2 separate regions of the Homo sapiens genome follow, and region 1 is linked to region 2. Evidence: fine-mapped expression QTL. A gene starts in region 2. The other region holds a variant in brackets. All regions are shown on one strand. Distances are from middle to middle.

Evidence for each region. PIP is the estimated chance that this variant, and not a neighbour inherited with it, causes the effect. A credible set is the group of variants that fine-mapping cannot tell apart.
Region 1: its variant is the best candidate, but not a certain one, in a credible set for the expression of SGTA in whole blood (TOPMed, PIP 0.86).

The regions. Positions count from the first base shown.
Region 1 is chr19:2,753,696-2,759,056 of GRCh38, forward strand. It overlaps SGTA (small glutamine rich tetratricopeptide repeat co-chaperone alpha), which reads right to left. Exons shown (of 12, transcript NM_003021.4): 10 at 3,998-4,087; 11 at 3,642-3,762; 12 at 1,020-2,238. The coding sequence ends at 3,648. Among named protein-coding and RNA genes, the nearest start is that of SLC39A3, 16 kb to the left of the region's middle. The variant G/A (reference allele first, on the strand shown) is at 2,246.
Region 2 is chr19:2,780,717-2,786,077 of GRCh38, forward strand. SGTA (small glutamine rich tetratricopeptide repeat co-chaperone alpha) reads right to left here and starts at 2,557. Exons shown (of 12, transcript NM_003021.4): 1 at 2,517-2,557. It overlaps THOP1 (thimet oligopeptidase 1), which reads left to right and starts at 4,787. Exons shown (of 13, transcript NM_003249.5): 1 at 4,787-4,962. The coding sequence starts at 4,947. RefSeq lists enhancers at 1,323-1,422, 2,919-2,988 and silencers at 2,479-2,528, 4,474-4,583, 4,614-5,073.

The DNA of each region.
Region 1 (5,361 bases), 27 kb before region 2:
TCCAGCGATTCTCCTGCCTCTGCCTCCTGAGTAGCTGGGATTACAGGCACCTGCCACCATGCCCGCCAATCTTTTTTTGTATTTGTAGTAGAGATGGAGTTTCATCATGTTGGCCAGGCTGGTCTTGAACTCCTGACCTCAAGTGATCCACCCGCCTCAGCCTCCCAAAGTCCTGGGATGACAGGCTTGAGCCACCACACCTGGCCAAGGGAGCAGCTTCTATGTTCACAACAAAACTCTGTGCAGCACCCTAGGGTTGGGGCTGAGATGGGCCTGGAAGCTTTCTGGGCTCCTTCTTGCCTGGGACTCCCTCACTGACCCATTCTCTCAACTGGAGCCGTTGTGAAAGGGAGGTGCCTTTGGTTACAGAATACAGAATTTATGGAGTTACAGTATGCTAGAAAAGCAACAGACAAAGCCAGGTGCGGTGGCTCACGCCTGTAATCCCTGCACTTTGGAAGGCTGAGGCAAATCACCTGAGGTTGGGAGTTTGAGACCAGCCTGACCAACATGGAGAAACCTCGTCTCTACTACAAATACAAAAAATTAGCTGGGCGTGGTGGTGCATGCCTGTAATCCCAGCTACTTGGAAGGCTGACGCAGGAGAATCACTTGAACCCGGGAGGTGGAGGTTGAGGTGAGCCGAGATTGCGCCATTGCACTCCAGCCTGGGCATCTAGGGTGAAAGTCTCAAAAAAAAAAAAAAAGCAAAGCAAAGCAACAGACAATACGATCACTCTCTGCTGAGGACCGAGGCATCTCACCCCACCCTGGGGTGACCCTCTACACCGGGATGCAGCTGGGGACGGAGGCGGAGGGAAGGGAGACAGCAGAGGGTAGAGGCTGACTGTCCGAAACCTCCCATGACCCGTGACCCGTGACCCAAGAAGTGCGGCTCCGGCGTCGCGGGGATTCACTCACAAGCAGCCCAGCTGATCCACAAACTCCGCGTCGGGGGTTTTCTCGAGGTTTGGGGTTGGAGGGTATCGGTGGCGCCAAGGTCAACACGAAGACAGACAGAGGTCACAACGCCTATTTATTCCCCACACGTCACGCCCTGCACCCCGGGTGGGCTTGGCACACACCTCACCGCCATGAGCGGCTGCAGGGCCGCGGCGGCCCCCGTTCCTACTGCTACCTACGATACACGGTACTGCGCCTACCTCACAGACGGCCAGGAGCCAGGGAGCCCCAGGATGCTCCGACTGACAACCCTGCTGCTGGGACCACGGCGCCGTGGGCTCGTCTGCCACCCCCAGGCCTCAGGAACCCAGACAGGCTGCCTGCTGTCCGGCTCTCCGGCTGCTTTCCTGGTGGCTGTTTTAGGGCCAAGGTGGGTGGCACCTGAGGTGTCCCGTGGCCTCCACCCAGCACAGGAGGGGTAAGCTTCCCTGGGGGGCCCCGGGCCCATGAAACATCCAGGACAGAAGGACAGCAGGATGGGACACAGACAGAAACGGCCCAGCTGCCTTCCCTGTGCCCGGGGCTAAGGCGGCCGGGACAGAAGGTCATGATGTCGCCCCTGGCTCTCAGTCGCGAGGACCAGAAAATGAGGGTGGGAGGAGGGGAAACATGTCTGTCAACATGCCCAACTGGAGAAAAGTCACAGAAACTGGTCCTATGCACCCAGGACGGCTCCTGAGCCGCGGAGGCGTGGGGTGACCGCAGCCGTCTCTTAGGTGTCTGCCACTAAAGAGTTCCTCATGCAAACACACATGGCCCGCGGTGCCCAGGCCGCAGCTGGCAGTGAGCTCTTCCGAGCAGGCACAGGGCCGGGGTGGCCGGGAGGTCGACTCGGAAAGAGGCTTCTCACAGACGGGAGAGTTCCTGCAGACAGACCACGGGATGGGGGGCGGGGGCTGTAAAAGGCTTTGGAAGCCACACGATCCGCCACACGGCTGAACGTGAAACCTGCCACTTCTCTGAGAGCGGCCCGGGAGCACCCCAGGATTCTAGAAAACACTCAAGTGACCGAGCTTTCTGGGGGCTGGAAGGGAGGTCGCTGCTGGTCTGTGCTCAGCTTGCTGGCTCTCGTTTCAAGAAGGGTCTGGGGGCTGTAAGGGAGTTACAAAAAGGGAGTGGAGGAGGGCAGAGATAAAAGGGGAAAATCCATCTTGACATGCAGGTCCGAGGTCTCTCTCTTCCCCTCTCTCAGGCAGTCCAACAGGAGGAAGTGGCAGACAACCAGAAGGCTTCCTTCGGGTCGGCCAGGGAAGGACGCGGTCACACCGGGAGCAGCTGGAAG[G/A]GGACAGACATGAAGGCTGTCAGAGCGCAGGTGGGGACCAAGGCTGCACCACACACTCCAGGCAGCAGGAGAGGCCCAGAGTGGACAGCCAGGGGCCACAGCGGCTATTTCAACGAACGTCAGAGCCACAGCTGCACCAGAAGCGTTCCACACACTCGGGGCCACGTGTGGCTGGTGGCGCAGAGAACATCGCCATGACCTAGAAGGGTCTACAGTATGGTGGTACTTTGTGTATGAGGTTACGGTGGTAAAAAATCCACCTCAACTATTAAAAAAAGAAAAGGAAAAATAAATAAAAGCTTATTTAAAAAAAAAAGGGAAGACTGGAAGAAAAGGCGGCCAAAATATTAATGTTGGTGGCTCTGGGTGAGAAGATTAAGGTTGGGCTGAATGCACGGCTCACACTTTGGGAGGCCGAGGCGGGAGGATCGCTTGAGCCCAGGAGGTTGAGGCTGCAGTGAGACGTGACTGCACCACTGCCCTCCAGCCGGGGGGACAGAGCAGGACGGTCTCAAAAAAAAAAAAAAAAGATTAAGATTGTTCTTGCTGCTTTTTAACATTTTTGTATTTTAAATTTGTCTACAGTAATTATGGTTTAAAAATGAAAGAGAGTGTATATGAGGAGGGGACAACGACAAAATGAAGAGGCCACATGGGAGCAGAATGGAAACACCTCTGGGGAGGCCCGGAGCCTCCCGCCCCCAGGGAGCCGGCGTCTGCTGGAGACAGACAGGACTGAACTCAGGGGAGCCTCCCACCCCTGGGAAGCCGGTGTCTGCTGGAGACGGACAGGACTGAACTCAGGGGCCCCTGGGGAAGGAAACCAAGCCAGCCACGGGCCCCTGGAACCCATGGGGGACACTGAGTGTATTTTTAAACAACTGTAAGTGCAACACCTGCTCACAGTGAGAAAAGGACAAAAAATCCCTCACAAAATGCAGGCAGAACGCTCGGGCGCAGTCAAAGGCAGGTACCCGGCTTGTCCTTTCCACCACTCGATGACCTCGCCCCCACCCCCGAGGTGGCAGCCCCGACACTGCAGAAACAAAGAGCTTCTGCAGGCGGCCTTAGGCAGGGGGGACCCCAGACACCAGCCCTTCCAGGGAGCTGTGGCTCTCCCCTAATCTCCACCCAGCGCCGATCCACAGATGGGAAAGGAGTGGGGAGCAGGACTTGGTGGCCACCTGGAAAGGGGCCCAATGCCCAGAGATGCCCCCACCTGCCTGGGCGGTTCAGGGTGATCTTCTGAGCTGGATGCACCCAGGACTCGCTGTCCAGTGTCCAGACAGGCTCCACAGCCCCCGGGCGTCACTCCTGCTGGCTGCCCTCACTGCCAGGCACTCACGTGGTGTCACTCCTGCTGGCCACCCCCCAGCCCCCGGCCCCATGCACTCACGCAGCGTCACTCCTGCTGGTCGTCGTTGCTGGCGCTGGGCGTCCGACTCCGGATCTGGCTCCTGAGCTGCTCTATCAACTCTGGGTTCTGCTGCTGCATCTGCTGGGCAAACTGCTGGCCCCTGCGGGGAAGGGCACATGGGGCTCAGCCAGGGCCAGGAGGCTGCCTGCTGCCTCCGTCCATCCCCAGCTGACCCCTCGGGCCCTCCACCCCAAAGACAGGCCTGACCCCTCGCTGGAGGACGCTGGGCCCTTCGGAGCAGGGGACGCAGCACTTTCGCTCTCCTCCTTCCCTTCCGCCTGCGAGCCCTGCCCGCCGCCCACGTCCTCCGTCCTCTTGGAAGCAGTTCCACTCACGCCTGGATGAGGCTGGCCAGGTCGTTCTGCGAGGGGCTGGTGCCGGGAGTTCCCAAGGGGTTGTTGCCACCCGAAATCATGCCGGACATGCTGCAGGAGAGAGCGCGTGACTCGCAGCCGGGACAGCCTGACCGCCACCCCCACTGCAGGCCCTCGCAGTGGCCCGGGAGAGAATCCCTCTCAGCCCTTCACCTTCCCCTGCAGGAGAGGATTCTCTCTCACCACCTGGTGGGCCTCCAGGGCCCAAACCCACCCTGTGACTTTCACCTGCTTTCCCAGAACACCCCTCTTTCTTTGGCCTAAAGAGCGTAGTTCTCAGCCAGGGGGTGATCCTGCCCCCAGAGGACCCCTGCAATGGCAGCGGACATTTGCAACAGCCATGATTGGGTTACGCCAAGACAGGGGCAGGGGGTGCTCCTGGCATGGAGTGGATGGAGGCTAGAGACAGTGCTCAGCACCCTGCAGTGCCCAGGACGGCCCTGCTCCAGAAACTGGTCCAGCTCAAATGGCCACGGTGCTGTGGCTGGGAAACCATGCTTTAAGATTTGACCGTGGGCCAGCCGCGGTGGCTCACACCTGTCATCCCTGCACTTTGGGAGGCTGAGGCGGGTGGATCACCTGAGGTCAGGAGTTCAAGACCAGCCTGGCCAACATGGTGAAACCCCATCTCTACTAAAAATGCAAAAATCAGCCGGGCATGGTGGTGGATGCCTGTAATTCCAGCTACTTGGGAAGACCCACTTGATCCCGGGAGGCAGAGGTTGCAGTGAGCCAAGATTCTGCCACTGCACTCCAGCCTGGGTGACAGAGCAAGATTCTGTCTCAAAAAAAAAAAAAGGAGAAAGAAAAAAAGATTTCACCATGAAAACAGGTGAGCAGCTCCCCAGTGCGCACAGCGCTTACTGGGGAGTGACCCTATGAGCCAGCGAGTGCACTCAGAAGTTTATATCCAAGAGAAACGAAAACAGGATTCACACAGACGATTGCACACCCGTGCTCAAGCAGCACCGTTCACAACAGACAAAAGGTAGAAACAGCCCAAATGTCCATGGATAGATGTGTGGATCAGCACAGCGTGGTCCCTCCACACTGGAATATTACTCAGCCATGAAAAGGAGCGAGGCCCTGACCCAGGCCCCAGCACACATGCACCTTGAGGACGTCACGCTCAGTGAGAGACGCCAGACACCAAAGTTCACGCAGTGTGTGATCCCATTTCTACGAAATGTCCAGGACAGGCCCATCCACAGAGACAGGAAGGGGATGCGTGGTTGTCAGGGGATAGGAGAGGGGTTGGGGAGTGACAGCTGAGGGGGAAGGGGCTTCTTTCGGAGGTGATGAAGATGGGTTGGTGCTCAATGGTG
Region 2 (5,361 bases):
TTGAAAAATTCACAGCCACATGGTCACGTTCCTTGGGGAGGCCATTTCTCTCTGGGTCTCTGTTTCCACCTCAGTAAAAGAGAAAACGGGCCAGGTGCAGTGGGGCACGCCTGTAATCACAGAACTCTGGAGGCCAAGGTGGAGGATCACTTGAACCCAGGAGTTTGAGACCAGCCTGGGCAACACAGTGAAACCCCATCTCTAAAACAAAATACAAAAATTAGCTGGGTGTAGTAGTGCATACCTGTAGTCCCAGCTACTCAGGAGGCTGAGGTGGGAGGGCCTGAGCCTGGGAGGTCGAGGCTGCAGTGAGCAGAGATTGTGCCACTGCACTCCAGCCTGGGCGACAGAGCAAGACCCTATCTCAAACCACCCCTTTGTTCCTTCAGCCTGTACTGAGCACTTCCTACCAGAGCCACTGTTGGGTCTTGGCATAAAAAAGAAAAAATGTAGAATTGAGTAAGACGACAGCTCTCAAGGATCCTCCAATCTGGGGCAGAGCTCACCCGCATTTGGAATCATTCACCCTTCTAGGAAGATTTAATTATAAACCTCAGCTCAAATCCTTGGCGTGCTTACAGCTTTCCAGGCACCCAGTTAAGTGCTGTACATGCGATAGCTTATTTTAGGGGTCAGCAAAGGTTTTTCTGAAAAGGGCCAGATTGTCTTCAGCTCTGCAGGCGTTAAGTTCCCTATGGCAACTGTTCAACTGTGCCTTCTTAGCTCGAAATCAACTACAGGTAACGCATAAACCAAGGAGTGTGGCTGTGTTCCTACAAACCTTCATTCACAAAAACAGGCCAGAGGTGGATTTGGCCTTCTGGTCAGTTTGCTGATACCTTGCCTGGTTTAATCCTCACACACCTGAGGTGGTTACTATTATAATCCCCATTCCACAGAAGAAAAACTGAGGCTTGGAAAGATGGGGACCACCCGAGACCACCCAGCTCCGAGGATGAAAATGAGGAGTTCTGAACCCAGGCAGTCTGACTTGAGAAGCTAAACTCCAAAGTACCCATTTCTCTCTGCACGAAATTGGGTGCACACACAAAACTTTGTACACGATTTCCCGGGCCCACACAGTCCCAGCTGCCCATGCTGGTGAAGAATCACTGATCTAGGGTAGATTTTTTTTTTTTATTTTTGACAGGGTCTCGCTCTGTCGCCCAGGCTGGAGTGCAGTGGCATGATGTTGGGTCACTGCAACCTCTGCCTCCTGGGTTCAAGGGATTCTCCTGCCTCAGCCTCCTGAGTAGCTGGGATTACAGGTGCACACCACCATGCCCAGCTAATTTTCATATTTTCAGTAGAGACGGGGTTTCACCACGTTGGCTAGGCTGGTCTTGAACTCCTGACCTCAGGTCATCAGCCCGTATGGTAGGGTTTTTAAAGCATTATTGACATTTAAAGCTGGATCATTTTCTGGGGTGAGGCCGTCCTGGGTACTGCAGGGTGCCGAGCAGCAACCCTGGCCTCCACCAACTCCAAACCAGGGGGTCCCCCAAATCATGACAAGCACAAATGTCACCAAGAATCCCTGGGGCACAGAATTGTTCCTGGTTGAGAACCACTGGTCAAGGGAGGGAAAAGGCAGACAAAAGGAATAATCAGAGACAGAAACAAAAGAAAATGGGACAATCATTCAACCTCTGAAGGGCACACTACACTGCAATTTTCTGGCACCTAATAACAAAAACAGCTATTCTCAAGCCAGCTCTCTCTTATCAAGTTCCAGGCACCTGATCAAATAATTGAATGTGGGTTTATCCTCATAATGACCCTCCGAGGCATCTGCTTTTACAACTCGTTTGCGAAAGAAGGAACAGTTTGCTCAGAGAGGGAAGGCGACTCACCCAGGTTTACACAGCGGGTGGGAGGTGGTGGTGGACGGTCCTGAATCCCAGATTTCCCCCACCTCTAGCACGATATGCAGAAGAAGACTCTAAACATGATATAAGACGAACGCCTGCTAATTCTTTGGAGTTCTCAGATTCCGCTGGACCCTGCGGCTCTCCTTCTCCTAGGCAGGGACTTTTGAACAACGCCCGTTTTACAGAGGGGAAAACTGAGGCTCCGAGAAGCCAAGAGGCTGGGCAAGGTCACCCAGGTAGGGACTGGCGGCGCTGGAACCAGAGTTCCGACTTCAGTCCCCACAAACGGGGGTCCCTGAGTCACAGGGACGACGTTTCCAGGCGGTTAATAAGAGCGGAACGGCAGCGAACACCCAGCGAGCGCTCACTACATGCGGGGCGCCTTCCCCTCCCGCCGTCCTCGCCACCAGGCCGCGGACCAGCATTTCCAGGACCTGGGGCCTGGGGAAGGGAGATCAGGGCTCGAAGGGCCTGCCCGATGGCGCCCGGCCTCAGTTTCCCCTCCGCACCGCCTACTCACAGGACCCCGCGGGTCGCGGTGACCCTGGCCTCACGATCCCCAAACTCTTACGAGCTTTGGGGCCCCGTGGGCCCCGAGCCGCAGACCCCAGACCCACCAGGCTCAGCGCAGTGCCCCTCACTCACCTCTCAGGCGACCGATCCCCGACCCACCGACGGTTGCGCTTGCGCACCGCGGTGCCGCCCGGCCCCGGCCCCAGGGCGCGACGCCTGCGCAAAAGAAAGGCGCCCGGAGTTGCTTCCCTTCTGCACAGGCGCGTTAATGATGGAGGCGGGCGTGGAAGGAAGTGACGCAACGTAGAGGCGGGAACCAGCTGGTTGTTAGGGCAACTGACCTCTGCGACCTAATGGAGGCCGGAAATCGGGTCTGGTTTGCCCTCTAGAGCGGGAATGAAGCGGTGCACGGTGGAACAGTGGCTGACTCCAGCCGGTCGCCGAGCTGACCACGTGGTGCTGGGCCGGCCACGTGGTGCAGCCGCGTTTGGACACCTGGACTCCAGAGCGTCACAGCTGCGCAATGAATGGGAGTCAGTGTTACCCGCTTACTATCTTTGTTCATTTATTCACCCACCCATCTACTCACCCACAAATGCATTCTTTCATGCAGTGTGAGACGTTTGTGAGTATAGAGCCATTTGTAGACAGCAGGTGCCTAATATTCATTCAATATTTATTGCAAAGCAGCCATAAAAACCAGCAAAGTGTCTACTCTCATTATTTTGCATTGGGGTAGACGGACTATAAACTAATAAACTAGTACATAAATAGAGAAACAAATTTCACAGCAAACACTAAGAAAAAAAAAATGAAGGTAGTGTGATTGTCACTGGGAGCTAAGTCGCATGGGATGGGTAGGAAAGATCATCCTTTACATTTGGATTTCAAGGATAGGAAAGTCCAAACGGACCCCAGGCACAGGGAACAGCGAAAATGAACGCCGATGTAAAATTAATCTTGGTGTTGCTCAAGACATGTGATGAGACATTTCCAAGGACGACAGAAAACTGATCACCATCTAAGTTACAGTTGCCAGAAATGTTCTCCCAATTCATTTTCGTCCTACTCAAAATACATGCACGATTAATGGCGTGGATTATTTTAATTTCTTTTGCAGAAATAAAGGAGGTGAGGCCGGCCGTGGTGGCTCACGCCTGTAATCCCAGCACTTTGGGAGGCCAGGGGGCAGATCACTTGATGTCAGGAGTTCGAGACCAGCCTGGCCAACACGGTGAAACCCTGTATCTACTAAAAATGCAAAAATTAGCCGGGCGTGGTGCGGGCATTTGTAGTCCCAGCTACTCGGGACGCTGAGACAGGAGAATCGCTTGAACCCGAGAGGCAGAGGTTGCAGCGAGCCGAGATCGCGCCATTGCACTCCAGCCTGGGCGACTGAGCGAGACTCCCTCCAGCCCCTCCAAAGCAAAAGAAAACAAAACAAAAACAAAAAAAGGGAAGAAAGGAGGTCGGTTGTTTTGGTTTTTGCCAGTTTAATTGTAGTACATTGTTTTTTCTGGGTGCCCTAACAGTTCAAGACAGATGGTTCAAGATGTTTTTTGTTTTAACCCACAACACTGCATGTAGGTCAGGCTACTGCACTGTTCCACAACACCTGTTATTTGACATGAATCCGTTTACTTGCTTTTGTTTCTGACAAAAAAAAAAAAAAAAAAAAAAACTTGGCCCGGCGCGGTGGCTCACACCTGTAATCCCAGCACTTTGGGAGGCCGAGGCGGGCGGATCACGAGGTCAAGAGATCAAGACCATCCTGGCCAACATGGTGAAACCCCCTCTTTACTAAAAATACAAAAATTAGCCGGGGTGGGGGCTGGCGCCTGTAGTCCCAGCTCCTGGAAAGGCTGAGGCAGGAAAATTACTTGAACCAGGGAGGCGGAGGTTGCAGTGAGCCGAGATTGCTGCTACTGCACTCCAGCCTGGGCGACAGAGCGAGACTCCGTCTCAAAAACAACCAAAGCACCAAAACTTCTGGTTAATTTAATTGATTCGTCGGATTCAGATGCTGGAAAGTGGGCCTGGGATATACAGTAAGCGATCAATAATAACACTGGCCCAACACACAGCTATAAGAAGCGAGGCAAGTACACATTAACGCGGTAGCCTGAAGCCCAAGCGAAGTCTCAGCGCAATGAGCCGCGCAGAGGCTCAGAGGCGTCAGCGGCGTGCGCGGTTTCCAAGGAAACCGTCCGTCCTAGCCACCCCAGCGGCTCTGGAATGGTAGAGCAAGAGGCTCCGCCCACGCACCGCCGAGACCAATAACGGACCGGGAGGGTTACGGCGAGTGCGCAGAGGGCTCCAGCGCACTCCCGGCCCTCCTCCTTTAGCTGTGGGCGGGGCTCAGGGGCGCGTGCGTCCTGCCCTCCCTGTGCGCGCGCCGCCCCAGCATGCCCCGGGAGCGCGGGCGGCGGGCCCCTTGGTCCTCAGGCGGCCGTGGCGGCGGTGGCGGCGGTTGGGCCGAGGCAGGCGGCCTCAGTGGCCGAGGTGGCTGGACGCGTAGCAGGTGGAAGGAGGGAGGGAGCCGCAGGCGCAGACCCACCCGCCATGAAGCCCCCCGCAGGTACCGACTACCCCGCTCGCCGGACCCGGGCGTCCCCTGCACCCTCGCTCCTCCCGGGGTCGCGACTTGGGCCTAAGGCTGGAGCGAAGCGACCCCCGAGCCACCCTCGGCCGGGCTGGAGGGGCAGCGGGGGAGGTGGACGACCCTGCTCTCTCGTTTGCCGAATGAATGAACCAGCTTTTCCAGCGCTTCATTCATTCTGCAAAGTTGATGGCGCTTCCCTTCCGGATGGGTCGGGCCCCGTGGCGGACCCTGGGGAGGCCGTGATTTAACGACTCCAGTCCCGTTTTCCTGGAATTCTAGAGCCACAGACAGACATTCAAAAATTAAATAAGAGAGGATCGAAGATAGGGAGGGATCGGTGCTCTGGTGCAGATAAACACGAACGGGGCAGTCCCA